Linked DNA regions of Homo sapiens. The protein of the gene in region 6 interacts with the protein of the main gene of each other region in a biochemical or structural test. Each region holds a gene or a part of one and is shown on either strand. Other genes may lie near its edges. The genes, in order: GPRC6A, SLC34A1, LPXN, CNTNAP4, ARVCF, PDZD2 and SLC2A1.

What was found.
Region 1: the proteins of PDZD2 (region 6) and GPRC6A interact in a test that uses a peptide from one of them, tested with the Homo sapiens proteins (one large-scale study listed by IntAct).
Region 2: the proteins of PDZD2 (region 6) and SLC34A1 interact in a test that uses a peptide from one of them, tested with the Homo sapiens proteins (one large-scale study listed by IntAct).
Region 3: the proteins of PDZD2 (region 6) and LPXN interact in a test that uses a peptide from one of them, tested with the Homo sapiens proteins (one large-scale study listed by IntAct).
Region 4: the proteins of PDZD2 (region 6) and CNTNAP4 interact in a test that uses a peptide from one of them, tested with the Homo sapiens proteins (one large-scale study listed by IntAct).
Region 5: the proteins of PDZD2 (region 6) and ARVCF interact in a test that uses a peptide from one of them, tested with the Homo sapiens proteins (one large-scale study listed by IntAct).
Region 7: the proteins of PDZD2 (region 6) and SLC2A1 interact in a test that uses a peptide from one of them, tested with the Homo sapiens proteins (one large-scale study listed by IntAct).

Annotation. Positions count from the first base shown.
Region 1 is NC_000006.12:116,801,197-116,805,690, reverse strand, and holds part of GPRC6A (G-protein coupled receptor family C group 6 member A isoform 1 precursor), read left to right. Parts: intron 1-4,494. UniProt on the Homo sapiens protein: Receptor activated by multiple ligands, including osteocalcin (BGLAP), basic amino acids, and various cations. Activated by amino acids with a preference for basic amino acids such as L-Lys, L-Arg and L-ornithine but also by small and polar amino acids.
Region 2 is NC_000005.10:177,396,891-177,400,342, forward strand, and holds the end of SLC34A1 (sodium-dependent phosphate transport protein 2A), read left to right. Parts: intron 1-59; coding exon 60-184; intron 185-892; coding exon 893-1,396; 3' UTR 1,397-1,958; downstream 1,959-3,452. Other genes in the region: PFN3 (profilin-3), read right to left, coding at 3,273-3,452.
Region 3 is NC_000011.10:58,544,371-58,548,864, reverse strand, and holds part of LPXN (leupaxin), read left to right. Parts: intron 1-4,494. UniProt on the Homo sapiens protein: Transcriptional coactivator for androgen receptor (AR) and serum response factor (SRF). Contributes to the regulation of cell adhesion, spreading and cell migration and acts as a negative regulator in integrin-mediated cell adhesion events.
Region 4 is NC_000016.10:76,283,510-76,288,003, forward strand, and holds part of CNTNAP4 (contactin-associated protein-like 4 isoform 1 precursor), read left to right. Parts: intron 1-4,494. UniProt on the Homo sapiens protein: Presynaptic protein involved in both dopaminergic synaptic transmission and GABAergic system, thereby participating in the structural maturation of inhibitory interneuron synapses.
Region 5 is NC_000022.11:20,006,235-20,010,728, reverse strand, and holds part of ARVCF (splicing regulator ARVCF), read left to right. Parts: intron 1-220; 5' UTR 221-274; intron 275-4,494. UniProt on the Homo sapiens protein: Contributes to the regulation of alternative splicing of pre-mRNAs.
Region 6 is NC_000005.10:31,641,723-31,646,216, forward strand, and holds part of PDZD2 (PDZ domain-containing protein 2), read left to right. Parts: intron 1-4,494.
Region 7 is NC_000001.11:42,927,869-42,931,368, reverse strand, and holds part of SLC2A1 (solute carrier family 2, facilitated glucose transporter member 1), read left to right. Parts: intron 1-162; coding exon 163-323; intron 324-502; coding exon 503-743; intron 744-1,333; coding exon 1,334-1,496; intron 1,497-1,588; coding exon 1,589-1,776; intron 1,777-2,054; coding exon 2,055-2,159; intron 2,160-2,335; coding exon 2,336-2,437; intron 2,438-3,500. UniProt on the Homo sapiens protein: Facilitative glucose transporter, which is responsible for constitutive or basal glucose uptake. Has a very broad substrate specificity; can transport a wide range of aldoses including both pentoses and hexoses.

The DNA.
Region 1 (4,494 bases), on a different chromosome or scaffold from region 6:
TTCTCTTTGATTAGTTTGGGGAAACTTAAAATTTAATATGGCTTTAATTTAGTGAGAATTTTCCATTGTGCTTTCTCAAATGCCCTTGAACAAGGCATTGAAAAGTAAATTGCTTCTTTTAATAATGATGTTTTACTTATTAGAAATAAATGTCTCAATAATATGTATTCAAAGGCAAACTTGTATGTCCTGAGGCAGAATCATGTTACAAAATATATAAGTTTTAAATTTGTAAGAGAAAAGAAGGTAAAAGAAATGAGACAATTCTTCTGATCATACAAGTGGGTATCTAGAACAAGTTTTTTCTACTTTTGTCATTTTTTTTTTTACTTTAAACACCCAAAACTACCATATTCGAGGTCTGATATGACCAGTTAACATTTGGGAGGATCATGCAATGGTGGGAGGGTATTTTAAATTGCTCACTTTTAAACTACTTTTCACCTTATGAATACAAAGCCAAAAATCTAATAAGGAGGTAAAACTAGAGATTAGGACCTTTTCTCAATTGCAAACACTCTTTTAATATATATATAGTTATGTCTGATGACTTTAAGACACCTATATGAAAGCATTCTCTTTGTAGTATAAAACTTTAATGATGGTGGTAAAAACCATAAATTATCTTTTTTAGATCATCATTATTCACTATATTCCAAGTTCAGTACAATGTTTTCTAATATATTTCAAGGCTTTTGGCCTGGTGCACTGCAGAAAAACTGTTTTAATTTTTAAAATTAGACTACAGTAATAATACCACCACATAGAATTTTAGAAATAAGAGATTGAGAAAGAGAAATAGAGAACAGTTGTGGAGACAGATGACATAAAGTGGAGCGGGGGATGGTTATATAAAGAACCTCATAAGGACAAAGAAATGCAAATAGCAAGAGTTATTCACCCCCTGAAGATCTGGGGAAAAATAGAGAAAGTATTTTAAATTAGGAATAAGTCTCAAACACTTCAAGGATAAGATTTGAGAAGAAATTATCTAAGCAGAGTCTCCTAAAATGTTTTATTTAAACACTAGGAGCCTGGAGTCATTCTTTTTGCCCTCAGAGCCTGTTAATCTAGAAACAAACAGAAACAGATTAGAAAGGAAGAACAGGGGGATGACTTGCTCCTTTGATCAAGACGTGAGTGAGCCACATCAAGTCAGTGCTAGAGTCAGTAAGACAAACAATACAAAGAGTTATCCTTTTATAAAGAAATCTCTGTAGACTTAAACTTTAAAGATCAGCAACATTTAGGGTCCCTAGTCAATGATACATTCTTAAGGATTACTTTGTACCCTAGCAAAATTCACTAATATTTAAATAGCACTTTCTAAATGATTTTAGATGCAAATAATTTTAAAGGGGTTAATTTTTCCCAGTGTTTGAGGATAGCACTTATTTTGGCCCTATATGTGGTCATATTTGTGAGCCATACTCAGGGACACCACAGTCGTGCTTGTTTTACTTCAGCAGATTTTTAATGTTCCTCAGATGTGTGTGGAGGATACCACCTCCTTGCTGTGACTAGAGATTTCGGTTTTTTTGTTTGTTTGTTTTCCTTTACTTCTGATGATATATAAGGTAGTAAGTGATGTATGAGAAAAGAAAGAATGCCTAATAGTTGAACTTCTATTCATATATTTATTTAGCAAATGTTTGGTGTCTCAATGTTTCAGGCAGTGTGTTGAGTGGTGAAGATATTACGGAGAACAGGACAGAATTCCTTCCCTAAAGGAATTATCTGTCCATTGATATATACAATCAAACAAGTAAGGGGCTGATTACAATGAAGGATGGTACACTACAGTGTTTCACATAAACACAAGATGGCAGAGAAGTACATAAGTGAGACAGCTAATCCAGTATTAACAATTCAGAGAACATTCTCCAAAAAACATGACCTCTATGTGAATGCAAGGAAGGGTAGCAGTTAGCCAGAACAGAAATATTCCAGCAAAGTCCCAGAAAAGGGAGAAAAGAAAGCACAGCATCTTTAGGAAGCAGGAAATCATGGCATATGACTGGAGTCTTGCATGAGAGCTGTAATGGACTAACTGAATGAGTGAGTGAAAGACATATTATTAGAGCCTTGTCCATCAGGGCATCTCAAACTTTGATGTGCAGTTGACTTTCCTGGGAATCTTATTATCATGTTAATTCAGTGGTTCCACAGTGGGATTGAAAAGTCTACATTTTTAACAATGTCCCAGATGATGCTGATACTGCTAGTATAGAGACTCCCCCTTAAATGGAAATGTTGCAAACTATGTTCAAAGGTTTGAACTTGACAGAGGATAGGGCAGCTAATTAAAGACATTTTCAGGCAGAAGAGTGATATGATATTTTTTCCATCCAAGGTGAATTGATTAGAGGGACACAAGACTGAAGGAAGAAACACCAATTTGGTAAATCAGACATAAGATAAGAATGCCTACAGGTATGAAAATAAGGATGAAAAGATGTATATATGGATATTTAAGAGGGAGGATGAAGAATATTTGGAGATCAATTGGATGTAAATGATGACAGAGAGCATCAAAAATGTTGCAGATGATTCCAATATTGGACAACTGGTGTCATTTGTCAAGCTGGAAACATAGAGAAAAGTGGAGGTCTGGTGGGAGTAAGAAATATTTAGCATTCCATTTTGGAGATGTTGAATTTGATGAATTTATGAGACATGTATTGTAAGTGTAGCAAGGTAGTTGCATATTAGTCCAGAAGTCAAGAGAGACATGAGAGTAATTTTGGCATGGTAAGATAATAGTAACTAATAATTTTTAAAACATATGGTTCTAGGTACTGATATACACCACCTCTAATCTTTATAAAATATGGTAGGCCGACAGGACTCATCTTCCTTAAATTCCATCTTGAAGAAGTAGTAAGAAGAAGTGTTTCTAGTGACCAAGACTTGTCAGAGTTTAGAGATGGAGGGAACCTTAACAGTAAAGACCTGTCCCGTGGTGATTCACACAGTTAGCAATGAAACTGCTGCCCCAGCCTTAGATCAATGTGTTTTCTGCTTCACAAAAGAAGGTATCGTCTGGGCATCAGGACACAGAGGCAAGGATGTTTCCTCTGCTCTTCTCTAACTTAGCCATGAAGATACCTCTTTCCACAGTAACCTTACTTAATGAGGTAGAGCAAGCATCAGCACAGTTAGGACAATGAAAAACAATATCAACCATATCACTTTAATTGGTGTGATTCCTGGCCATGTGTGCTTAAAAACTAGGCATTATCATACACAGGTGAATAAGATAATAATTGAAATGCAAATCCCATTCTCTAAATTTTGTAGTGTCAATTGATAGTGAATTTCAGAGTCTCCATGAAAATTTTTTTAAATGATATGAAAAAGCAGTTAACAGCTTAATAACTGGAGTGGTAATGTTTAAGATTAACCTTACTTCAAAGCAAATGTTTTATTATATTTAATGAGTAATGAAAATACTGTTGTATTTGCTTCCACCCTGTTTCCTGTAAGAGCAAGCATAAAATTGTGGAAGTTTATTTACATTATACAATTTTATGATTATTTACAGAACAAATACATGTGAGAACTTTAGCCTATAAAGCCTAATTAAGCACAGGAAAAAAGAGGTAGAAATTATAGTTCAAACACTTGTGTGGAAGAGGATGTGCTCCCTAAAGAACTGAGTTACTGGGGTTTACATGTGTATATTGCTTAAGGAAAGAACAGAAGAAACAAACCAGTCAACAGATAGAAGTGAGAACATTGGAGGTAGGCCCTTGCATATTCTTTTATTTTTGTTCTCTCCTCTTTTTTTTCTTCCAGGCAATTGCTAGAATAAAATTTTGTTAGTGAATTCCACCATGTTAGATCTGATATCCTGCTTCTTTAAAGTAACACTAATTAATTGATATTCATTAAAAGAGCTAAGACATCTGTGGGGACATAAATACACACACGTAGACATTCTGCTAAAGTAACATTTCTCATTGATGTTACCATCATAGCTAATCTATTTACTTGAAAATATAACTTATTTTTTATATTCTATTGACAAAAAATTGAAACACTCATAAAAAGTTAACTCAAAAGAAATAGAATAGAATAATTGTCTTCAAATAGAATAATTTCTGCCTTATTCTATAGATTTTATACCCAACAAAAGCCACACAGAACCATAGATTTAGATAATAAATGGGCCATTATGAAAGCATTCAGAGAGGATATTTACTTGACATACTTATATATTAAGTTAATGGTGAAGCCAGAACAGCAGCCTGTTTCCCTACATTCCAGCCTATTGTTCTTCCACTACAGCACAACCTCAGTATGGCTATCCCATTTGTAAACAAAATATTTTTTGTCCTAACTCTATAGTATACAAGCTCTCACTGTGCAAATTAGGTAGCAAGACAGGTAATTTATCCTTATATTTCTTTCTTCTCAAGTTAAAAAATAAATCATTTTGTGAATTAGCTTAGAAATATAATTTAGAGATCACTTTACTACATACTCAATCAT
Region 2 (3,452 bases), about 150 Mb from region 6:
GGCAGGGAAAGGGCCGAAGGAGACGCTGGGGGTCCCACTTCCTCTCCCTCTGTCCCCAGGTCTTGGTGTGATCAGCATTGAGAGGGCCTACCCGCTCACACTGGGTTCCAACATCGGCACCACCACCACGGCCATCCTGGCTGCCCTGGCCAGCCCCAGGGAGAAGCTGTCCAGCGCTTTCCAGGTGCGCTGGGAGTGTAGCCTCGCCTGGGGCAGGATGGAGCTGCCTCTGGGGTGTGGGGCCTCACAAAGGTGTGACAACATGGAACAAATATTTTGACTGCCTACTAAGGGCCACCTAATATGCTCAATGAAACCATTATGGGCAAAGTAGACCCAATACCACCCTCGAGACCTTAGCATCTAATAGGGAGACACTGCTCATAATTACACCAATAAATAGCAGTGAGTCGGATTTGCACCATAAGGAAGAGGAAGAGGAAGAGGCACTACAAAAGAGGGCCTGGAGCAGTTTGGGGAATCCATTGCGGGGGTCAAGGCCGCAAATGGCAAAGGGGAATTATTCTAGGAGCAAAGGAGTAACTGACAAGCCAAGGCACTGACTGAATGAGGGTCCAGAAACTGACATCAATCCTTTAGCTGCTGGATTTTGGCAGTATCTGCTGGGGGATTCCTGTGCGAGGGGTCAGTGGGGAAAATGTGGGGAGCTCAGGGCAGTAGTTATTTACCAACTGGTCTAGAAGTATTTCAATATTTGCATAGCCAGCATAGCCACCTCGGGGTGATCTCGGGGCAGGGGGCACATCACCCCTAAGTGGAAACTTTCCTGCTGCCCAGACCAGATCGGGGTTCCTATCATCTACCCCTGCTGGCCTGACACAGGACCTGGGAGCCAGTGCCCATCTCAGCCCCTCTGCCTCATCCCCTGCAGATTGCCCTCTGTCACTTCTTCTTCAACATCTCGGGTATCCTTCTGTGGTACCCGGTGCCCTGCACACGCCTGCCCATCCGCATGGCCAAGGCGCTGGGGAAACGCACGGCCAAGTACCGCTGGTTTGCCGTCCTCTATCTCCTTGTCTGCTTCCTGCTGCTGCCCTCACTGGTGTTTGGCATCTCCATGGCAGGCTGGCAGGTCATGGTAGGTGTGGGCACGCCCTTCGGGGCCCTGCTGGCCTTCGTGGTGCTCATCAATGTCCTGCAGAGTCGGAGTCCCGGGCACCTGCCCAAGTGGTTACAGACATGGGACTTCCTGCCTCGCTGGATGCACTCCCTGAAGCCCCTGGACCACCTCATCACCCGCGCCACCCTATGCTGTGCCAGGCCTGAGCCCCGCTCACCCCCGCTGCCCCCCAGGGTCTTCCTGGAGGAGCTACCCCCTGCCACACCCTCCCCCCGTCTTGCACTGCCTGCTCACCACAATGCCACCCGCCTCTAGGCTGTGGGCCCAGACTACAGCCTGGAATGGGGAAGGCCTGGGGTGGAAAGGCAGGGGAGGGAGGGTGTGTGTAGGTATGTGCATGTGCCTGTGCCACCCTGGGTGCCAGTCTCTCCTTCTGTAGCTCCGCAAAGCTCTGGGCTTGTGTGAGAGTGTCGGTGTGTGTGCATGTGTGGGGGTGAGTCTGCATGTGCACCTGTCATGTGTAGAAGCTTGTATTTGTGTACAGGTGTGCCAGCCCATGCAGGTGTACACAGACACACCTGTGGGAGGCTGTGTGCAGGCTGCAGGATATCTGGGTATGATTTCAGGTCCTCTGCACGTGTACACATGACTAGGATAGGCAGGAGTAAGGGTGGGTCTGGGTATATGACTGTGCAGCTGTTTGTGCATAGATGTTGGTGCCTGCGTTACTGAATTTGCACACCTCCTTGCCACCTTCCTTCCTCCAAGATACCATCTCCTCATCCTAACCCAGGTCTTCGGCACCACCACAATTAATTCCCTTCCCAACACTTGCCTGATGGAAAAAAAACAAAGGAATTAAAACTCTCCTCAGGCATTCGGAAGTCTTTTTGCTCTCCATCAATGGCAAAGGGAAGACCAAGCCAGGGGGTTCAGCAGCACCATCTCCCCTCAAAGACTGGCTGCAAGAGCAGCCTGCCCTGCCCAGGCCAGGTGCAGTTCCAGAGAAGCCAGCCCTGCAGGCTCACCCCAACCATCTGCCTGGCCCTACCTTAGTGAGTCCAAACCACAATTCAAACTCCCTGGAAGCCCCTCCTAGGCCTGGGGCCACCCCCAAGGCAAGTGTAAGGAGGATTCTGCACCCCCACCCCCTGACCCCCACCTGGCTGAACTTCCTCTGGTCTCCCTCTGCCCTCTAAATTCACCCACCTCAGCCACACATCACTCCTTCCTGCTGGGATAAGATCAGGGCTCCAGAATAAGTGACAGGTGGGGTCTGCCATCAGGGCCGCTGGGGGAGGGGACGGGAAGGGTGGGGGTGGGCAAGAGAGGCCATGCCCTGGGCCCCAGCACATGGAGGGCAGGGACCAGACACCCTCCCTCCCACTTTTGTCCACTATCTTTGGGCAATAAACCAGGCCTCAAACTTACCCAAGCTTTTCAATTCCCCCTCCTCCATAGGTCACCCTGAAACTGAGGCCTGCAGAGTGAGACTCCCGGGTAGGGATGCCAGAGTTCCTCCCTCTAGTCCAGGGACTCCTGCGGGGCCTTTTCGAAGGCCTGGGGAAGGCAGGATGTAAGGTCTCAAACCCAATTGCGATGGTCTTGGACATGAGCCCTCTCAGTAGGCTCCCCTTGGAGGAATGTGGGCAGAGATGCAGAGGCCTGTGAGCCCCAGAACTGCTTTACAAGCCACCAAGCCCATCCTGTCACCCACTCACAACTTGCTAGTGCTTGAGGTATGAGTGGAGGGGGGAGGAGCAAATTGGCCTCCAGCCTGACACCCTGATGGGGAGAGGTGTTCGCGGGATGGGGAGGGGGCTCCCTTTACTTGTCCTGCCTAATGTGTGGGAATATCTCTGAGAAAGGACGCTAAGGCTGAAACAGACTTTGAGAAGCCCCCACCCTTGGACTCTTCCTCAGCTGCGGAGTCCCTAGGACCCTGGGAACGCGCCAAGGAGCAGCAGTCAGGCCAGGAGCCTCTGCAAGGCGTCCATGGGAGAGCAGGGTGTAGGGCACAGGGGCCTGGCAGCCTCTAGACTCAAAATCCCGGCTCCACCAGGTAACCGTCTTGCAAAGACCAGTTTCCTTATTTACAACTCCCCCCACCGCGCAAGTGGAGGAGGAGCCAGCCGCGCCCAGGTCACAGTTTATTTGGCCCGCGCTACCAGTGGGCGGCCTGGCTGGCCGGCTAGGCGCCCTGCATGCGCAGCCCGCGTATGAGTTCGTGCACCGTCTTGTTGAGGATGCCCCCATGTACGCCGCGTCGGCCCATTAGCACCAGGAGCGCGCGCGGCGCACGGCCCACGCACACGGCGCGCGCGTCCAGCCCCTTGGTGCGTGCGTCCAGCACGCCGTCACCCTCGGCCAG
Region 3 (4,494 bases), on a different chromosome or scaffold from region 6:
TAGCAAACTGACTACACTAGAGTCTGGATTTTAGAGTCAGACTTCCAGGTTCAAATCTGGGTTGTGGTATTTGTTCAAGTCATTTAACATCTCTGTACCTTACTTTCCTCATCAGTAAAATAGTCCTAATGAAATTGCCTACCTTATAGGGTTGTTATGAGGATTTAGAGACAATACAAGCGTGGTATTTAGAATAGTGCCAAGCACATGGAGGTATAGTAGTGTTAATATTATTATCACAGTGTCCTTTTGGTATAAATTCATTTTTTTCTAAAGTTAACATTTGAATCCTTTTTGAAATTGGCTTAGTTTTTATTGTACTTATCACTAAGTTATGCAACAGAACTGTGAAATTCTTTTCAAAATGGCCAACTACATCTGGCAACAAGTCAGTTTCTTTCTTTTCTTTTTTTTTTTTCTGGAGATATCCCTCCAGGAGACTTTCCTCCTCCTGATTCAACATGAAATGATTTCTTCCTGCTGAGTAGCAGTCATTCTGGTTCATTAACTTAGAATTATATCTAGTAATTACTCTTGGAAATTCCTTTTATTAGTTTCCTCTTTGGATGCTCTGTTTCCTGGGTCCCATGTCTATGTTTTATACATGTTACCACCTTTATTTTGGTGGGGAACATCCCCTAGTAGCTTTCTGAGAAAGAATTTTTGAGAACTTGAATATCTGAAAATATTTTTATTCTGTCATTGCCCTTAAGTTGCCTGGGCATAGAATTCTAAGTGGAAACTATTTTCCTTCATAATTCTGAAGACATTGCTTCACTGTCTTCTAGCTTCCATGATTGGCAAGTTTTTATTAAATTTTTTTTATCCTTGATCCTTTCTACATGACCCATTCTTCCCCCTTTGTATGTTTGTTTCATGTGTTTTCTGAATTGTCTTGTTTTTTTTAATTTCTCCTTTTTATGTTTGTTTTGAACAAATATGGAATCAGAAAGCTGCTTTACTTTGTTTTTCTCCTGTCCTTTTAGAATGAACTCAGTGGGGAAGGATTTCTCCTCTCATAAATAAAAGCTTGTGCAGTCCTCTGTCTTTTCTGATTACTGTTAAAAAACAGTTCTAAATATAAAATCAATTTAAGAAACAAAACACAAAAACTAAGCCATTAGGTAATTCAGTCTGTGTAATAGTTAAGGCTTCCAGCACTTTAAAAGTGACAGCCACTCCCTCTCTTTTTTAGGACCTTCAAGCTGCAGGAGGCGAGGACAGGGGTATGGCCTTTCCTCTCTCCTGACCTCGCTTTGTTATCTACCACCCTCACCCTTATTGCCAGCCTTGACACCTGCCTGCTCTAGGGTTGAAACACTAGGGAGGATGGAGATGAGAATAGAAGGCAGGAAGGTCTAACTTGTCTAGGATTGTTGTTAAATTGGCTTTATGCTCTCCAGGCTCAGCCAGTGTTTAGCTCTGACTTTTTTCCCTGAATTCTTTTCGGGATTAAGACAGGTCCAGCAGTGAACTCTTGATTGCCCTTTACGTGTCTTGACTAGCTATTCTCTCCTTGTCATGTTTCTTTGAGGATTTGTTTTGTAAAGATTCTTTTTTCAAGGGGCTTTCATTGTTCCCTCCTAGTGAACCCTTAGAAATTATTAACATCGTTCCAGATAATCTCTTCCTCTCATATTTTCATAGAAGGACCATGGATAACTTACTCTTTTCTCTGACAGCCAGTGGAGTTATAATTTTTAGCTGCATGTTTCTATTCAGCTGCCATAGGCTCTTTCAGCCAGACTCATCTATGGACTTTTTCCAGGGGTAACTCTGATACCACTAACTGCATCTCACTAATGCCAAGGCACACATATCCAACTCTCTGAGTCGTCCCAGTGAAGTCCCTCTTTTAACCTGAGGTTATCAAGAACTATACCTCATCTTTCTTGGTGGTGATGGGGCACTCATAGCACAGTTTTCTTCAAAGGAATCCTTCTCTCAGTTTTCCTTTTTCTTTACCTGTTTTCTCCTGAACAAGAGTGAGGAATTCCAGAATTGTACAAGTAATCTTTGACTACCTGTTTGGAGGGATGTTTTGCAGTTCAATTTGGAATTTGATATATATTACATCTTGGTGCCTTACATTTGTTTACACTGGTCTTTCCCAATACTGCTGATCCATGGTTGTCTGTTACTATTTAAGAATGAGACACTAAAATGCTAATTGCAAACTCCATGGATATAGACAGAAATTGTTGACTGGTAGACTTGACTATATGGTACTCAGGTAAGATACTCTGGCCATTTTGTTGAGTGACTCCTGAATATGACAATCTTAGGTCTTTTCTGTTGAGTCAATTATGCTAAAGAGATGTTCTCTTTGCCAGAATTCTGAGATTGAAAAAGGGGATGGGGGAATGGGCTTTTCACCATTCAGCATGTCAACTTTTACTTAATTCCCATTTTTCAGTAGAGAGCTTGACTCGTTTCCTCATGGTGTCCAACATCTCTGATCACTGAGACTCTCTTGTTCAATATTTACAGAAATAATCATTGCATCTTACGGTAAGATAAGGCATCTAACTTTCTAATGGTTCTTTAGACTTTCAACCAGTCCTGTTTCTAGCCTTGAAGAGTATCTCATGCATTCAGTTCCTGAGCCCCTCTGATGTTATCATATTCAAGATGGCTTGATTTTTATTGGCCTCTCCCATCTGTGGAGACGTAAGTTCCAGTTTTCTTATTTATGTTAAGCCAGGTACCACTCTTAAAATCTACTTTAAATTCTTGAAAATTTAGTTAATATCTCATCTGGTGGCATATCCTTTACTTTTTTCTCTTTCCTTATGGCTCTTTATAATTTACATAATTTCTTAACTGTCATGTTAATGATGTTTCAGGAGGGAGTAAAGAAAATCCCATGTGTTTAGGCCCTTTTACTAATATGGAGACTTTCCTAAATATCAGGCATATTATTATGTATATGGTTAAAAATAATTTATATGATGCCATCACAGTCTGTGAGAGCAAGTTTATTCAACATTTTACCTAGTTATAGATGAGTCTCAGGTAGGTAAAGTGATTTTCTTAAAGTCACACAGTTAGAAAGTTGAAGAGGCAAGATTTCAACTTGGGTATCATTTCTGCAAGTTCCATGTTTTTTATAAAACATCACAACTGCCTTTTGACTGAAATTCAATTCCTCTTCGGCTGTTGGATCTCTTTACTTTTGTGGTACCAACACGATATGCTTTATTTGACAATAGACCCAGATACAGTGGTGCTGACAGAATCCACTAGCAAAGTGCTCTGTAGTAATTTGCTTGTTCACTGGAGCTTGCTCAATGCTTTTTCACAAATCATTAGGTATTTCATTTCTAGATGGTATTTTACCTAAGCAGCATTTTTCATTGACACTTAATCCAAATCATCTTAAATTGTGTCACAATAAATTTATATTGTACTGGTAGCCATAAAAGTCTGAGAATTAGTTGAGTACAACAGTCAACAAGTGAATACTGCCTATGGATCATTATGATGGAGAAGTTGCCTGAAAGCAGAACAACAGGACATAGGCACATTTCAGGTAGAGACATAAGTTAGATACACACACAAAAAAATACCCAATCCATAGGATGACCAGAAAGCACCATTAAGGTAGCTAGTTCTCATTTTCTTGACTCAGGCCCCTTCTAAACAGACAGGGCTGATGGGGTCATTTATGGCTTTATATAAACAGGAAACAACACTTAAAACATATTTATACATAGAGCCACATGACAAAAAGTGACATTTATTGATCAGAAGCTCCACTTGGGTTGTATTTTCCTTTTTATGCCTGGCTTTCTGTAAAAAGGTCTCCTGCCATATGATCAGTTCATTAATTAGGTGTCATCCTGCCTCACCCCAAGTTAGATAGTCACAAAGAGTTTCTATAATGACAGTTTAACCTCTGAGCCTCCTGGGAAATTAAATTCATCTGCATTTTTTCATCAGTCCAAAGAATTCCTCTTTAAGGCTCAAGTCATTGGTCCTTGGCATCCTCCCACAGGGATGAGCTCTTCAATGTCTACCTGTGTTTCTTTTTAATTGTTCATTATCCAGGTCATGCAGGTGCTCCCTAATTTCCCCTGTGGCTAAGAGCCTCACCAGAGTATAAACACTCTCCCTCTTTTTGTGGCACTTTTAATTGTCAGTATTTCTCATTCTTCCTCTAGAGGTAATTGGTCCCAAAGAGATCCTCCAAGAAAGCAAGAGCTGAAACTTTCTTAATTTATTAGATTATGAAATGCAGGGGTATCACAGCAAGTTTGGGTGATTGCTTTTGATTTCTTTCCTGAGATTTACCCAAGTTGAAACAGAGGCTGTTACTCCCCTGCTATCCCACTCTCGAAACCAGCTGTCCAGCAGATGCCTAGATGAGGGTCATTTCTCAGATAGTTGGCATGTCTTACAGTTTTCTCAAGTAATGCCTACCTATAGGCAAGCTCAGTTTTGTGTCATTTGCTTTATGCAGCATCAGCATCACCTGGGGACTTGTTAGAAATG
Region 4 (4,494 bases), on a different chromosome or scaffold from region 6:
GCCATGGATGGTGCTGGAGACCACTATTCTTGGCAAACTAACAAGGGAACAGAAAACCAAATACTGCATGTTCTCACTTATAAGTGGGAGCTAAATGATGAGAACACATGGACACATAGAGGGAAACAACACACACTGGGGCTTTTTGGAGGATGGAGAGTGGGAGGAGAGAGAGAATAAGGAACAATAACTAATGGGTACTAGGCTTAATACCTGAGTGTTGAAATAATCTATACAACAAACCCCCATGACACAAGTTTACTTATGTAACAAACCTGCACTTGTACCCCTGAACTTAAAAAATAAAAGTTAAACAAACAAAAGAAGTCCTTCACTATCCTTTAAAAAATATTTTCATTTTGTTTTCACTGACTGAAAGTTTACAGAATGATCTAGCTCCTGAAAACAGTAGGAAGAGTAAGAAAAATGCATCCAACATTGTTATGTGCATGTTCAGATTGTTAGTTGAATATATCTGATGAAATATTAAATCATGCAGACTTTGACCTGATTGTCTTCCATGCTCTAGTGTTTCAATTATTATTTATAGCTTATTTTTCATTTTTATTCATTCAATAATTTTGACCTCAACTTTAGAATTTATCTATAATCATTGAAATTATATTTTTCAAATTAACTAGTATGATAGGGAAGGGTTGACCCATCACAGTGTATGTGCTTAAATAGGAGATGTTTCCTATATTGTTGCATGATGTTCCTATGTTGTGGGTGGTGGTGGCATGCAAATTCTTATAAAATGTATGGATGATTGTTTTCATGGGTATTTCAGTTAGGAATATTTAGGAATACTCTTTAACAGATTTTCAAGAACAGGTCTTGAGTTGTAGCATCAAATGCTAATATCAGTTTGATTTTGATCACTTTAAAAAGAAAAATCTCAGAAAGTGAAAGAAATGCCCCAAACCTCATGCAGACAAAAATTACAGAGTTTTGGAGACCCTGTGATTAACTGAAAACACTGAAATGAAGTAGTTTACCCAGAAGATTAACATTGGAATTGGAAGGATTCAGGGTTTTAAAAACAGGGTTTAAAATCTTAAGAAATAGTAGTTTACCCATAATTTTAAGTTACAACAAATTGTATCTCTAAATAACAAAAATGTCATTGACTGTTGAATTGTCTTCTTATATTTTTGGGGAAAATTTTGATGTCTAAGAGTTTAACACTTAAATTTCTTCCATGAGCTCTTAAGCTGTGATTGTCTGTGTATTGCAATTAAATATGCATGCCTGTATGTGTATGCATGCATTTATTTGACTTTTGAAACTGGCTTTCCTTGTTTTTAATCTATGATTTTTAGGCTCTCCAAAGTGCTGATTACTTCAGGGGGCTGATGGCTCTGTGTTGGTAAAGACCAATCTGACATATAATTGCACAAGCAAAGATACTTTTGTTTCTTAATTGACTTTTGGAGGACAAAGATTTTTTCCAAAACGTCTTTTGTTAGGGTCTTCATAGTTAGTTCATAGTTACTAACTACAGTTACATAGTTCTGTAGTTAGTGAAAAACTACAGAACTGTGTAATGATAAAGAATGTACATGCCAAACGCATTACAAGTTATCATTATTGCTTCAGTTTGCCCATGGAACATTGGTATTTGGAAGAGGAAGTGGATATGCTTGGGTGTTTTTTTTCCCCTCCTTCCAGTGAATTTTCATTATGGTTCATGGAAAAGTGGTACTCTAGTAATAAAACTGGGAAAATAGCATAACAGCAGGTAAAAATGAGCCTGTTTATGTTACAGTTAATGAGTCATTCCAATGTAATAATTGGAGAAGTGAGTGAAGCCTGAAAACATTTGACATTTTAAGTAGTTCAAAATTAGTAACTATAAAATTTTTTAATGCCATAAGTATTTAATAGAGCAGTGATGAAATTTATCTCCAAGGTTTTTAAATCACAACGGAAAAAAATGGTGTGATATTATCAGTTGGCCTATAGCTCTAATTGCTTTTTTTATTAAGTACCTCTCATTACTTGGCAGTGCTCTAGAATAAGATATTATGGGCTTCTAAATCGTAAAAGACATATTAGTTTCTGTAACCATTTTCTTCCCACTGGCAATTATGATACTTATAAATGGGGTCATAGGTTGATATTACTTTAAAAGCACCATGTAAATATATAAATTCACCTGCCTTCCTAAATTACGTTTATTGTATACTTTTTAGAAAAATTATAACCTGTAATTTCATTAATGGACTTACTCTGCAATTATGACCTACGGAAGTATTTTTTTCAATGTCCTTTGAATAAGGACACGGATAAACTCTCCTAGCAATTGGTTGTAAGCCTTAGGGTTGATAGTTGCTTGGATGACCTTGAACAGACATTTGATTCCCTTGGCCCACCACAGAGACCCCCACATTTTCCCATCAATATAAAGCAATTGCCTTTGCTATACCAGGCCCAATAGAGGGATTTCTTGGAAAATCTGAGAAAGTCAAATTTCTAGGCTAATAGCTTTGCTCTAAAAGAGTGCATGTAGATTTATATCTTTAAGACTTGTCTTCAGTATTCAAAGATACTATGTATTGGTATTTTAAAATCTGCTGGTCAGCTGACGACTGACCAAGGACAAAAAAGGAACTAGATTGAAAGTGGTCTTTAAGGGAAATGAGTTGCTGAGATAGAATTATCAGTGTGTGTGTGTGTGTGTGTGTGTGTGTGTGTGTGTGTGTGTGTGAAGATAACTGTGGGTGGGAATTGGAAAACAGACCATTTTGGTAGGGGAAATAGAAAGCATTGCCCCTAGGTGGCACATTTTGAATTAAATAGTGATGGGATGTAGAATAAGATTGCTTCATATTTGCTATCCATACCAGAGTAGTCTCCAGTATGCTTTTAAACCAGTATGTGGGATTAAAAATTAGCAAGAGGTCTTCTTGGCTCTAGTTTAAATTCACCCAAACAGAGAAGTGATATTACCCTTTTGCGATCTCAAAGATCTTTATTTTCTAGGACTCGGTGTAAAGACCTCAGGATCCCCAGTAGTTAACTCAACTTCTTCTCCCACCGTGGGTGCTAGTCTTTCTGAACCTAGCAATGAAGCAGAATATGTTGGGAGAGATTTTGGCTTAAAAATCACTAGATAAATTGAAGCATAATTTAACTCCTGAAGACAATGCGGTAAAGTGATACGGGTGGCAAGAGAAGGGCATGATAAACAAAGTTGAACATTTTTTCACATCTTTCACTTTTATCTCTCAATTTTGGCTGATTTTAAACAAAAAGAATTTATGTCCAAGGCAGAAAGCTGCAAGAATGCTTAGTGATCCTCATAATTAAGGATTTATAATACATATTTACATTTGCCATGTTTTAGATGTTTAGGACTTAATTAAAAGAACATTGCTAAAATAAAAGCAATTCTATCTAAATTGGTGATGAGGGAATTCTATGCAAGGTTGTAAAGCTGCTCAATTAGGCTCTTTTGTTTCATAGTGTGTATGATTTCTGTGCTTATTTGAACTGCTGTACTTTAACATGACAACTGTGTCACAATCCTGTTAAGAAAACTTCATGCTCACATACAGCTTCATAACACTACCTCTTAAGTATCAAAAGATGTAAGCTTTTCTAAAACAAATATACAAAAAATAGCAATAATTTGAGGAAAGAACTAGGGTACATTTAAGAAAGCAAAGAGCAAACACTGTAGATAACATTTAGTTTCTTAAACTCCTAGCATCCTTTATCACAAAATGAAACATGATAAAACAAAACATTTCATGGTCAAATACATACTAGGGGAATGGAAAAAGGAGGCTAATGTAGAATTTTAGCTACTAAAAATAAAATTGTGATCACCATAATTTGCTACGCTTAACACGCAAAACAGCCTGATTCATTTTTTTAACCTGTTCTCTTTGTAAATGATCACATTGGTTTCTTGGAAGCTTTGCTATGTGCTTGCCTGTGGGATAGTTTCTTTATATTTATGTATAATTGCAACATGAACCAGATTAGCATGAAAGTATGTAGGTAGTACCATTAATCACTGAAACATTCTCTAGAGAAGATGTCAGGAAGTTCTCTGTTTTTCTGAGTTAGCAAAATCGAGCCTCCTGTGATCATTTTCCTTTTTCATTTTCCTGGATATGAGGATGATCTGGCTGTGACATCTGTCGTGTTAGCGATGGCCAGGGTTGATTTGGCTGAGATGGCTGGTAAGGCAGCTGTTCCCTCTTCCTTCCTCACTGCTCCCTGTGACCCTGATTCACTCCATTTTATATCATACAATATTTTACCTACTACACATATTATTGTAGTTTTAGGTAAGCTTGACATAATGTACTGTTATATTTCACCAAAGGTACAGATTTTAAGAAAAAGCAAGTTTTGCCTTGCAGCTATATTTCATTGTTAGGCACATCCAACATTAAGTTGAGGCTTATGAACATGGCAAACAAATGTCTTCCTACTCAGTACTTGCTGATCTTTCCACTTTTGTCTGTCTTTACTGCTTGA
Region 5 (4,494 bases), on a different chromosome or scaffold from region 6:
AAGGAACCGTGGCAGCCCAGTGTCACCTACAGTCCTGGACATGTGGGGGCAAGAAGGTACACATGAGTGTGTGGTTATGAGTCAGGAGCACCACGGGATGACCTTCAGATCAGGCATGACAAGGTCCTGCTTAGAGGACGGTCTGGGCTTGTGTACCTTTATCCGGCAGGGACCTACCCAGCTGGATTGACCTCACTCATGCCCTCTGGTTTCCCTGCAGGAGCCAGAGCCTGCAGGGTGGGTGTCGGGACATGCTGATCTTCCCTCAAGACAGGTGAGTGGCCTGGGTTTAGCTTGGGGACATCCTCTCCCACATAGGACAGCAGAGTGTTCTGGTGGGCCTGGCGGGTGGGGGTGACAGGGATGGACTGGCCCTGGACACTGTGTGCTCCTGGTCCTTCTCACCCTGGGTAGGCACAGCCCCTGGGCTGGACAGGGTGGATGTGAGGGCCTCCTGCCACCAGCTTGGGTTTGTTACTGGCCTGAATATGGGCAGCAGCCACTGGTTTGATGTCTGGCTTTAGGGACAAGCCTGTTTGGGGCTGGCTGACGAGGTTGCTGGTCAGTGTTGGTTTGGACATTCACTGGGTCTGCTCTTCACCTGCCTGAGCTAGGATGCCAGCCGCAGTGGCATCCAGTATTGGCACAGCCTGCTGGGCCAGGCCATTCGCTTGCCCCCCAGAGACTGGAGCCACAGGGACAGAGGATAGTCCTGGAGGCCAGGCACACAAAACTTTGTTTGAAAAGGTCTGATAGTAAGTAATTCAATTTTGCAGGCCTTATGGTCTCTGTCACAGCTGCAGTTCTCTGCCATTGTAGGATGAAAATGGCTGCAGACAGCCCATAACTGAATAGTCTGAATGTACTCTGATCACAGCCGTAGGCCATGTGTACTGGCCCGTGGCCTCAGGTGTTATCTGTGTTTGGGGTTCCTCTGCTTATCATGGCTGCTAGCTCCAGTGGGACTGAGGCATAGCGCCTGGGAAGCATGGCAGGGTTGGAGGCTGAGTGGTCCATGTCCCCCAGGACCCTCTGAAGGATGGTAAGGCATACCCTGCTCACATCCACGCTGCCAGAGTTTTGCCACGATGGGTGCTGTTCAGCAGAGTGGGTGATGGCTTAAGAGAATGGCTCCTGGCCATTCTTGTTCCTCCAGTCCCCACCCTGGCCATCTGCCTGTCCCCCCAAAAAGCAGTCTCTGTGGGAGGCATGGCTGACAGCCCTGTGGTTTCTCAGTGACAATTAGTGCCCATTGTGGAGGCATGGCCCAGCCAGTGCTGTGCCTAAGTGGTAGGGAGAAGGCCATGGCCTCCGGATGCCTGAGTGACCTAGGCTGAGGGATCTAGGGCAGATGGGAGGGACAGGATGACTGACTCCTTGCCTGTTCCCAAGTCCTTGGGCATGGAAAGCTGCCGGCCGGGCCAGCCTAGTGGGAGCTGGGTCTGCTGCCGCCTGGCTGTGTGGGAGGACCAGCGTCTGGCCGAGAATGTCACTGCTCAGGCCATTTGGCCATGCAGGGTCTTCTGGGTTGGGACAAAGAAGCTCAGGCAGGGTACTTGGCTTGCTTGTGGCACAGGTGACAGGGCATCTCAGGGTGGCAGGAGGGGCTGTCCCACTGCCCTTAACTCCTCGTAGGTCACCACACTTCAGGGAGGCCAGGTCAGCCAGACACCAAACGACAGCCCTGGTAACAGGGTCCGCAGGAGGGTGGTTGGCTGGGCAGGTCCGAGGCTGCCCAGGCACACTTGCTCACTCTCCCTCCTGTTGCTTGCTCCTTTCTTGTCCCTTCTTTTCCCTCCCCCCTCCAGTTCTTGGTCTTCTCTATGTTTCTCTGTGGCCCTCTCTGTGCCTCTTTCTCTGCCTTTCCCCATCTCCTATCCTGCCCATCTGGAATGTGGTGATTGCTTATTCCTGTCTGCTGTGGTGATTGGTTTTTCATGTCTGCCCTGGGCACTGGTGCGATGGGTGATGGCATTTGTGCCATCTCTGCTCTGGCTTGGGCAACCTGGGCTCTGGCTTGCGGCTGCCTGCTCTGCTGGGCCCTGGGGTGTGGTCCTGTCCACAGCGGGAGGCAGCTGGGGAGGGAGCCTCAGGGCTCAGCTGGGACAGGGGCTGATGTAAACACCCATGTGTCACCACACTCAGCACCCACTCACCCAGCCTCATGCTGGGTCCTGGGCATCACAGGCACATCAGGCCCAGCCCTGCCCCTGAGGAGCTCCCAGCCTGGTTGAGGAGATCCACAACACACAGAGGAACCAGTGGCCAACTGTGGGGTTACAAGATGGTGATGAGTAGCATGGCTCCCTTAGGAGGGGGAGCTGGGAGGGTGTGATGGGGTGGTGCGTGCTGAGACCAGGCCTGAGTGAGAAGGGCTGGCGGGGACACAGATGCCCTGCCGTTTCCCATAGCTGGCCAGCAGTGGTGTCCTCTCAGAGACCAGCACCAGCCTGGCCTCCTCCATCAGCCGCCGTGTGCCTGCAGGGGGTTGCGGCTTCGTCTCCTGCGGCCGCCTGGCCCCTATGACAGGCCTTCTCTTGGGTTTTGATGTGTTTCTCAGCCATTGTATGAGTCTTTGTATATTAAAGATATTAATTCTTCACTCCTCTTTCTGCCTACTGCACATTTTTCTCACCCTTTTAGTTTTTGTTTATGATCATTTTGATGTCAAAAATGTTTCATATTTTGTGGTGAAGTGTGTTGGATTTTTCCCCATTTTTAGATATTCCGTCTCTCTGTGTAGTCAACTCTCCCTAGCATGCAGCCAGATAAAGATGCACCTGTCTTTTCTTCTAGAAGGTATTTTTACTTTAGTTTTGTACACAGCATTTAATCTGTCTGTCTTAGTCCATTTTGGGCTGCTGTATCAGAATACCTGAGACTGGCTAATTCCTGAAAAACAAAGACTTATTTCTAACAATTTTGGAGATGGGGAAGTCCAGGATTGAGGGGCCACATCTGGCGAGGGCCTTCTTTGTCGCTACATCCCCCAGGAGGTGGCAGAAGGGCAGGAGCACACGTGAGAGAGCGCTGAAGGAGGCGGAACCCATCCTTTTATCAGTAACCTGCTCCCGAGATAACAAATCCACTCCCACTGTAACGGAATTAATCCATTCATGTAGCAGAGCCCTTGTGACCTAAACACCTCTTAGAGGTCCTACCTTCAACACTGTTGCGTTGGGAATTAAGTTTCCAACACGTGAACTTTGGGGGACACGTTCAGCCCATAGCACAAACTAGTATTTATTCTGATGTAAATGGACGGCAAGGATTTAACTTTGTTTTTACAGCTGCATCTGAACTGTTTCCTTTTTGTTTGTTTGTTTTGAGACGGAGTCTCGCTCTGTCACCCAGACTGGGGTGCAGTGGCGCATTCTTGGCTCACTGCAACCTTCACCTCCCACGTTCAAGCAATTCTCCTGCCTCAACCTCCCGAGTAGCTGGGATTACAGGTGCCTGCCACCATCACCAGCTAATTTTTAAATTTTTTTTTTTAATAGAGATGGGATTTCACCATGTCCAGGCTGGTGTCGAACTCCTGACCTCAGGTGATCCTCCCGCCTCGGCCTCCCAAAGTGCTGGGATTACAGGTGTGAGCCACCGCTCCCGGCCATGCCTGGCTAATTTTTGTATTTTTTGTACAGACAGGGTTGTGCCATGTTGCCCAGGTTGGTCTCGAACTTCTGGGCCCCAGCAATCCACTTGCCTTGGCCTCCCAAAGTGCTGGGATTACAGGTGTGAGCCACTGCACCCAGCCTTAAATTTTTACCTTTGATATACTATTTATTTCAAAAGGGTAGGCCAGGCGCGGTGGCTCATGCTTGTAATCCCAGCACTTTGGGAGGCTGAGGCAGGCAGATCACGAGGTCAAGAGATCAAGACCATCCTGGTCAACATGGTGAAACCCCGTCTCTACTAAAAATACAAAAATTAGCTAGGCATGGTGGCACGCGCCTGTAGTCCCAGCTACTCGGGAGGCTGAGGCAGGAGAATCACTTGAACCCAGGAGGCGGAAGTTGCAGTGAGCCGAGATCGCGCCACTGCACTCTAGCCTGGCGACAGGGCAAGACTCCGTCTCAAAAAATAAATAAATAAAAGGGTATTATGCAATTTCTTACTTATTATGTGAGGGAGCCTCTTTTTTTTTTTTGAGACAGAGTCACGCTCTACCGCCCAGGCTGGAGTGCAGTGGCGCGATCTCGGCTCACTGCAAGCTCCGCCTCCTGGGTTCACACCATTCTCCTGCCTCAGCCTCCCAAGTAGCTGGAACTACAGGCGCTCACCGCCACACCCGGCTAATTTTTTTTGTACTTTTAGTAGAGACGGGGTTTCACCATGTTAGCCAGGATGGTCTCGATCTCCTGACCTCGTGATCCGCCCGCCTTGGCCTCCCAAAGTGCTGAGATTACAGGCGTGAGCCACCACGCCTGGCCAGGGAGCCTCTTTTTTAATTTTAATTTTTAATTATGGTAGAATACACATAACAAAATTTAC
Region 6 (4,494 bases):
AAGTGATCCTGGTGTCTTGGTCTCCCAACGTGCTGGAATTAGAGGCATGAGTCACTGCGCCCAACCTGGCCCCTCGTTCTGCTCCTACACAACCCTTTAGCACACTCACCATGCTGCCCTGGGTGTGTTTCTTTAGGGCCTTATTTTTTTCATACCCAGATAAGGCCTGGAACAGTTGCTAATCAACTTCCTCAGGTTAGACAGGAAAAGAGGCAGAGGGAACACCCCAGACCCCACTACCCCCGGCTGATCATACTGTAGGGTGTTGTGGAAACCCTCTCCCAGAGGCTCCAGGCCTGGTGAGCTGAACAAGATAACACAGAGCTGTGGATACCCCCTTGCCTTTGATCATGTGGGCCTAAGTGACTCGGACCATGGTGGTGGGGGCATCTCTGTTGGAAGGTCTCTCCTACTGCACCATCCACAAGGGGACAAATTCCAAAGATGAACCCACAAAAGGTCAGGAGCAAATCCAAAGAGAGGCTGAATCTCTTTAAGAAGACAGACTTAGAGACTCAAGTTTTCAGCTTCTTTCTTCTGCCCTCAGACACATCCCCGCAGCACCAGGGAGGATGCTGAGGTCAGAGTTGAGTTTCAAGGACAGGAAGAGCTATGCAGACAAGCCCATGAGAGAGGTTAGCAGACAAGTGGAGAGGCAGGGATGTCTCAGAGACGCCCATCCCCAGAAGGATGATAGGAAAAGGCCACTGATAGAACAGTGTCTGCAAGGGGTGTTCATGAAGCCAGGCTGCAAGGGAAGAAGGAGACAATGATTGCCAAGACAGTGAAACTGCAGGTATAGACACTGGATCCAGAAGTGTGCTGTTTGAAAATAATCCACAGTATTTTGAGGAGGTTGTAGCATTGAAGGAGGGTTTATTCATGAGAGTCCCTCCATTCTCCCTCCCAGGCATGTTTGGTAAACAAAAGAGATGTGGGAGAGAGTAGAGAAGCTAGATCAGGGGTGTTTGGGCTGGAAGAGGTGAGCAAGTGCAGGGAAAGAACAATCCTGGCATCTGCCTTCTCTGGAAGGCCAGAGGGAAGCAGAGGTTGGTGAGGCCCTGGAGAGAATGAGGAAAACAGGGGAGGCATTTGCTGAGACCTGGGGTCACTTCGTGAAGCTGGGGCCTGGAGGAAAGGGCTGCGGTACTGCTGCCTGCCAGGGGAAGCAAACCCGGCACCTGGCACCAGTGGAGGCAGCCAGGAGGGAAAGGAAGGACTCCTGAGTTGGGGTCAGAGGCTTTGGCTGGAATCCTAGCAGTGCAGAGAACTTCCTGCTGGGCCAGATGATTAGAAATGTTGAAGCCTCCATTTGCTCATGTATAAAATTGATGCAGTCGCTACTTCACAGGGTTGTTCTTAGGAGGAATCGAAAGAGGTACTAAGGTGTGTTTGGAAGGCCCTCCATGACCGCATCTGCTGTATAGGGGGTCCTTTCGAACAGTGTGTCCAGAAATGCATAAACCTCTCACCAAAGTCAGTGAGAGCCCAGTGGAATGGAGAAGGCAGGAGTTTTTAGCAGACTTGCCTGAAGCTTTCTTTCAGCTGTGGATGAAAAGTTTTGGACTACTCTGAGCAGTTGGGTCTCCCTGTTTGCACCTTGACAAATCCTTCAAGATTTCTGCCTTTTAATCCATTGGCTTGTTGCAGTGCTGCGTCTAAATTTAATGTCCCTCTCTTTTGCAAAGATCCAGTTACCAGGTGCAAGGCAGGAAGAGGCTGGACAGTCTCCTCTGTCCTCCATGGTTTGGAAGGGCATCATGCACTCACACTCGGTAACACCTGCATTTGAGGAAGCTAAGGCCCAGAAAAACAGAGAACTTGCCCCATTAGACAACCAGAACTAGAGTCACAAAACACAGTTGCTTGATCTGGGGAACTCTTGTCTTTCAATAGCAGTGGTGTTGGCCAAGATGCAGGTGGCTGAGGAAGAATTAAAAATCTGCAATCCCCCTTGGTTTTATTAATGGGTCTTTGATTATAGTTGAAAAGATGAAAAAACAGTCTCACTTATTAGTGAAGCGGGAAAGAAAAGGAGCATTTGACTTACTAAACACTAAGTAGATATGTGCCAAATTAAATGAAATTGGGGAAAATGTGAATAATTTTTTTTTTTTTTGAGACAGGGTCTCACTCTGTCACCCAGGCTGCAGTGGCATGACCACGGCTCACAGCAGCCTTGACCTCCCCGGCTCCAGTGATCCTTCCACCTCAGCCTCCCAAGTAGCTGGGAAGCTGGGACTACAGACACCACCGCACCTGGCTAATTTATTATTTTTTAAAAATTTTTTGTAGAGATGGGGTTTTACCATGTTGCCCAGGCTGGTATCAAACTCCTGGGCTCAAGCGATCCACCCACCTCAGCCTCCCAAAGTGCTGGGATTATAGGCATTGAAGAATGTTTTTTAAGGAAATTAAAGTATAGAATTATCTGGAAAATTTTCTGAAATTATTCCTTATTTTCCAACCGGATGGTCTATGTCTAGATTTGGACCTATGCATCGGTTGCATATAAAAGGATAGATCTTTTTATGGTATCTAGAAATTTGACAATCTTGATCTCCTATTATCCATACTTTAGAAATAGAGAAAAGATGGAATTGGAAAAGAATACATTTCCCATGGGTTCTAGCGGGGAGTGTTTGAAGCCAGGTAGGTCATCTGATTCAGTCTGATTGTCTGAGAGCTAAAGAGTTCTGCCTTCTATTTACAAATGTGTTCAAGAAGACACTGGGAGCATTTACAATTTGAAAACTTAATAGTTGAAGAGGCCTTTTGTGGTCTGATAAGGCGGCTGAGCCGAGAGATGGTTTGTTAAGACACTAAGCATGCGGAGAAGACACATTTGTCTTTTAAGCCTCTCCAGCTCCAGGAAGAGGCCTACCCCCGGCCGTGGCTTCTCTCCAATGCCAGTAGTGTGTTCACCCCACACTCTTGATGGGGCCAGCAAACAGTCTCCATTCTGAAAGTTCTGGCTGCTCCATGCATGCATTCCCTACCAGAATGCGTTCTGAGTGAATAATGAGTGGTCTATGAACTTCCAGAAAATCAGAAACTTAAGATTCTCAACTCTCTTTATGAAGCCATTGAATGAAACCAGATAGCATTGAACACCTGGTTGACAAAGTTATTCTTGGATTATATGTTTTTATATACAGTGTTTCTGGGGCTCATCAAGCCCTCTAGGTAGGAGGCCTGAAGAGGTTTTGGAGAAGCAGCATTGGGGGAACCGACTTCACAGCACAGAGGATTAATTTTGCACACACAATTGTTGCGAGCTCTGAATGAAATAATAGCAAGGAGATGGGGGAAGTTTTGTTGTCTTTTAAGTCTAAGAAGCAGCCTGAAATGCCTAGATATCCACAGGAGGATTTAAAAAATCACAAATTCTTAAGGATCTGCAAGTCCTTGAAAGGGCATTATCCAATCTCTTGCCTTCAGGGAGGAATAAACTTAGCTCATTCCAGTTAAGGATCTATGGTTTTAACAGCTTCCTGAGGAAGGGGCGTCCATGGCATATTTGGCCCTTAACACAGTGATGCCCCAGACTGGTTCTTTGAGGTGTTTTAGCAGGAGTCGAAATGGATTTCAGAGGGGTTACTCTTGGTCTCTTTTTTTTTTTTTTTTTTTTTGAGACGGAGTCTTGCTCTGTCGCCCTGCCTGGAGTGCAGTGGCGCGATCTTGGCTCACTGCAACCTCTGCCTCCCAGGTTCAAGTGATTCTCCTCCCTCAGCCTCCTGAGTAGCTGGGACTACAGGTGCGTGCCACCACACCCAGCTAATTTTTGTATTTTTAGTAGAGACGTGGTTTCACCATGTTGGCCAGGATGGTCTTGATCTCTTGATCTTGTGATCCGCCTGCCTTGGCCTCCCGAGGTGCTGAGATTACAGGCGTGAGCCGCTGTGCCCGGCTGGTCTCATTTTTACCAACACTTGGACACCTCTAGTACTTGGCTTTACAAGCCCTAGACTTTATCATCCAAGTTAACACAACAGACCCTGTTGTCCTGGCCTCAGGACAGCCATCATCCTGCTTGGCTAAAAATAAAGGCAGCACTCATATAGTGTAGAATTAGTATTCCTACCGTGAGCAGGGGCACGCTTTGTGCTGTGGCTACCCCAAAGTCAATTCCCTGGCTGGGACCTGCCAGCTCAGGCAGTGGGAGTTGTACTGGGAGGAGGGTGGGAGAGATGGTAAGTTTGGATCTCAGTGTACTCAGTAGGGGGAAGGGGGTGGGGAACTGGGCTGCCTTACATGGGAGGCCTCCGGGCATCCCCAGGCAGCTGGTGGGAGGAGAGAGGGTGTCAGGGAGCTTTGCACTGCGGGGGGGCCTTCTCACTACTGTCACTCCTAGGGAGATCTCAGGATACCTAGGCGGAAGAAAATAAACACCAACTCTTTTGTCCCTTTCACCAAAGGCCAGCATGTTTCCGATGCCTGTCTAAGGTGAACCTGGCTTGTCCTGTTTACACGTCCTGGGATGTTACTGTAATT
Region 7 (3,500 bases), on a different chromosome or scaffold from region 6:
TGAGGCCCACAAAAATAGAGGGACTTGGCTCAAGAACATGCAGTGAATCTGTGGCAGAGCCAGGCCCTGGCCCTCTCTTAGGGAGGGGTGCAAGGGGAAAGGAAAAGGAAGACTGGGTCCTGGCCCCTGGCTTGCTCACCCAGGCTGCATCTCCCCCTGCAGGTGATCGAGGAGTTCTACAACCAGACATGGGTCCACCGCTATGGGGAGAGCATCCTGCCCACCACGCTCACCACGCTCTGGTCCCTCTCAGTGGCCATCTTTTCTGTTGGGGGCATGATTGGCTCCTTCTCTGTGGGCCTTTTCGTTAACCGCTTTGGCCGGTAAGTAGGAGAGGTCCTGGCACTGCCCTTGGAGGGCCCATGCCCTCCTGCCCAGGGAGTCCCAGATGGGGTGGGAGGTAGGGGAGACTTATCTGCCTGTTCCAGGGTATTACCTCTGACCCAGCCCCTCGGAGCCCAAGGAATGTGGGCACTGGCCTGACCTGTGACCCCGTCCCCAGGCGGAATTCAATGCTGATGATGAACCTGCTGGCCTTCGTGTCCGCCGTGCTCATGGGCTTCTCGAAACTGGGCAAGTCCTTTGAGATGCTGATCCTGGGCCGCTTCATCATCGGTGTGTACTGCGGCCTGACCACAGGCTTCGTGCCCATGTATGTGGGTGAAGTGTCACCCACAGCCCTTCGTGGGGCCCTGGGCACCCTGCACCAGCTGGGCATCGTCGTCGGCATCCTCATCGCCCAGGTAAGCTGGGGCAGGATCTACCTGCCTGGCACGGCCCCTGCCCACAGCTTCAGTGGCTCTCGGATCTGTGCCCAGCAGGGCAGAGTTTCTCTTCCGCCCAGCCCCCACAGCCTTGCAGAGGACAACTATGGTACACAGGTCCAGAGAACACAGCACCATGGCCTCCCAGTTGACAGCAAGATGACTTGACTCTTCTCAGTCCCTTTCTTCTCACTCTAGGCTTCCAACCACAGGGCCCGCCTTCCCCCAACATGCCGCAGGCTGTTATGCACAGTACCCTCTCTCCAGGAGGCTTCCCCTTCCCTGTCCCCAAAACCCTCTTGTGGCAGAGTAGCAGCCCCCATTCTCTGTGCTGGACACATCTGTGGCCTTGTCATTTGTCCTCCCAGCAACACTGTGGGGTAGGTCCTACTTTTCCCATGTGACCGATGAGGAAACTGAGAAACAGGGCTCATGCTAGTGGCAGAGCCTCTAGAACTGGGGCCCTTCCCTGAAGCAGCAGCTGACACAAAGTAGGGAAGGCCACTCTGGCAGGACGGGGTGGGAAAGGGGGTCAGGGCAGAGGCGCTCACGGCCCCTGCTTCCCCCAGGTGTTCGGCCTGGACTCCATCATGGGCAACAAGGACCTGTGGCCCCTGCTGCTGAGCATCATCTTCATCCCGGCCCTGCTGCAGTGCATCGTGCTGCCCTTCTGCCCCGAGAGTCCCCGCTTCCTGCTCATCAACCGCAACGAGGAGAACCGGGCCAAGAGTGGTACGGGCATGGCCCTGCCCTCCTCCCCACTCCCTGAGCCCTGGCCTTCTTCCCACTCTGAGCCACCCTCACCTTCCCTCCGGTCCCCCCAGTGCTAAAGAAGCTGCGCGGGACAGCTGACGTGACCCATGACCTGCAGGAGATGAAGGAAGAGAGTCGGCAGATGATGCGGGAGAAGAAGGTCACCATCCTGGAGCTGTTCCGCTCCCCCGCCTACCGCCAGCCCATCCTCATCGCTGTGGTGCTGCAGCTGTCCCAGCAGCTGTCTGGCATCAACGCTGTGAGTGCCCCCACCCACCCTTCCTGTGCCCCAGCCAAGCCCTCTGGTCAAGTGTGCATGGTGAACAAGTCCCAAACTTGAAACAACAGATACGCCTCTGCCGAAGAAGTTTCCCTTTAGACCCCAAGCCCGTAAGGTCACTGCAGTGCAGTGTCCCTTCTGCCTGAGTATTTGTCCCCTTCATTCTTTACTCATCCTGGGTCCCACATCCACTGCTACAGAGGCAGGGAAGGGCCACAATGTCCAGGTAGGCCCCAACAGTTTCTCTTGTCTGGCAGGTCTTCTATTACTCCACGAGCATCTTCGAGAAGGCGGGGGTGCAGCAGCCTGTGTATGCCACCATTGGCTCCGGTATCGTCAACACGGCCTTCACTGTCGTGTCGGTGAGTCTTTGCTTACTGGCCCCCCCAGCCAAACCCCAGGGAGGAGGCAGTGCCATCTTCCCCACTGGTCTTTGCAGTGCCCTGTGACTTTCTCAGCTCTTGAGGCAAGGCCTCTGGGTGGGTGGGTTCAGAAGGGCACTAGGCAGGGGTGGCACTGACACTGTCTCTGCCCACAGCTGTTTGTGGTGGAGCGAGCAGGCCGGCGGACCCTGCACCTCATAGGCCTCGCTGGCATGGCGGGTTGTGCCATACTCATGACCATCGCGCTAGCACTGCTGGTGAGTTGCTAGGTTCTGGAGAGTGAGGGATGCGGGAGAGTTTGCCTGGGCTTCATATCCCAAAATGCCTGTCTCAGCCCCAGGCTGGCAGGCCTTTTGGTGGCTGCATTCTCCCTGGCTGTGGGTCTGACTTTCTGGCTCCTGAAGTTGTCTCCTTCCAAACCACACACATCCTCTCTTGAACTTGCTCCTCCCTGCTTGATGGATTCTCAGCGCAGCACCTCTGGTCCCAGACCCCAAACTCTCACCTCCTTAAGGAATTGCTTTGCCTAATATTAACCCTTTCCAATCTTCATCTGTAGCCTCAATTCATCTTCACAGCAACCCCGGGAAGTAGTGCTGTCCTCCCCATAGAGGCGCAGAAACATGCCTTGCCTCATTCAGTTCACACGACTGGAGGTGTAGTTCAGTTCTTCCCATTTTATGGGGGAGGAAGCTTAAGTCCCAGTGAGGTTAGTAACTTGTCAGATAAAGGATGAAGCCAGGAATCAACCTCAGTCCCAGGCCTGTGACTGTGACCGCTGTGCTAACCCTGTGCCTGGCACTCACACACAGGCACTCGTTTATTTAGCCTCTGGGCAAGGAAAGCACCATGACTGTCATTTTACAGCTCAACCTGGGCTTGGAAAGTTTGGTGGTTGCCGAAAGGCCAGACAGGCAGCAAGTGGAAAGCCCATAAATTTTCTACCCTGGCCTCCTCAAGAATGGTTATATGCAGAACCGTATGCTTAGCGCTTACTCTGTGCCAGCCTGAGCTGGGCACCTCACACGCCTTAGAACCTGAATCCACCCCACCCCCAGGAATGTTCTGCATCCTGCCACAGGCGGACTGTGCTGCAGGCACAGACAGGGGACCATGGGGCCTCTTAGCACCGTCCACATGCACACCACATTACCACTCCCAGCGGGTGGACTCAACACTTGCAGCCACCCTGCAGGACTTAAATCATTTTGTTCGGATGAGGAAACTTAGGCCCAATGCTGGATACACAACAAATCCAGGACCATCCCCAGGCTTCCTGCCTTCTCGCATAGCTCTGCTCTGGCCTCTGTAGCTTCTGTT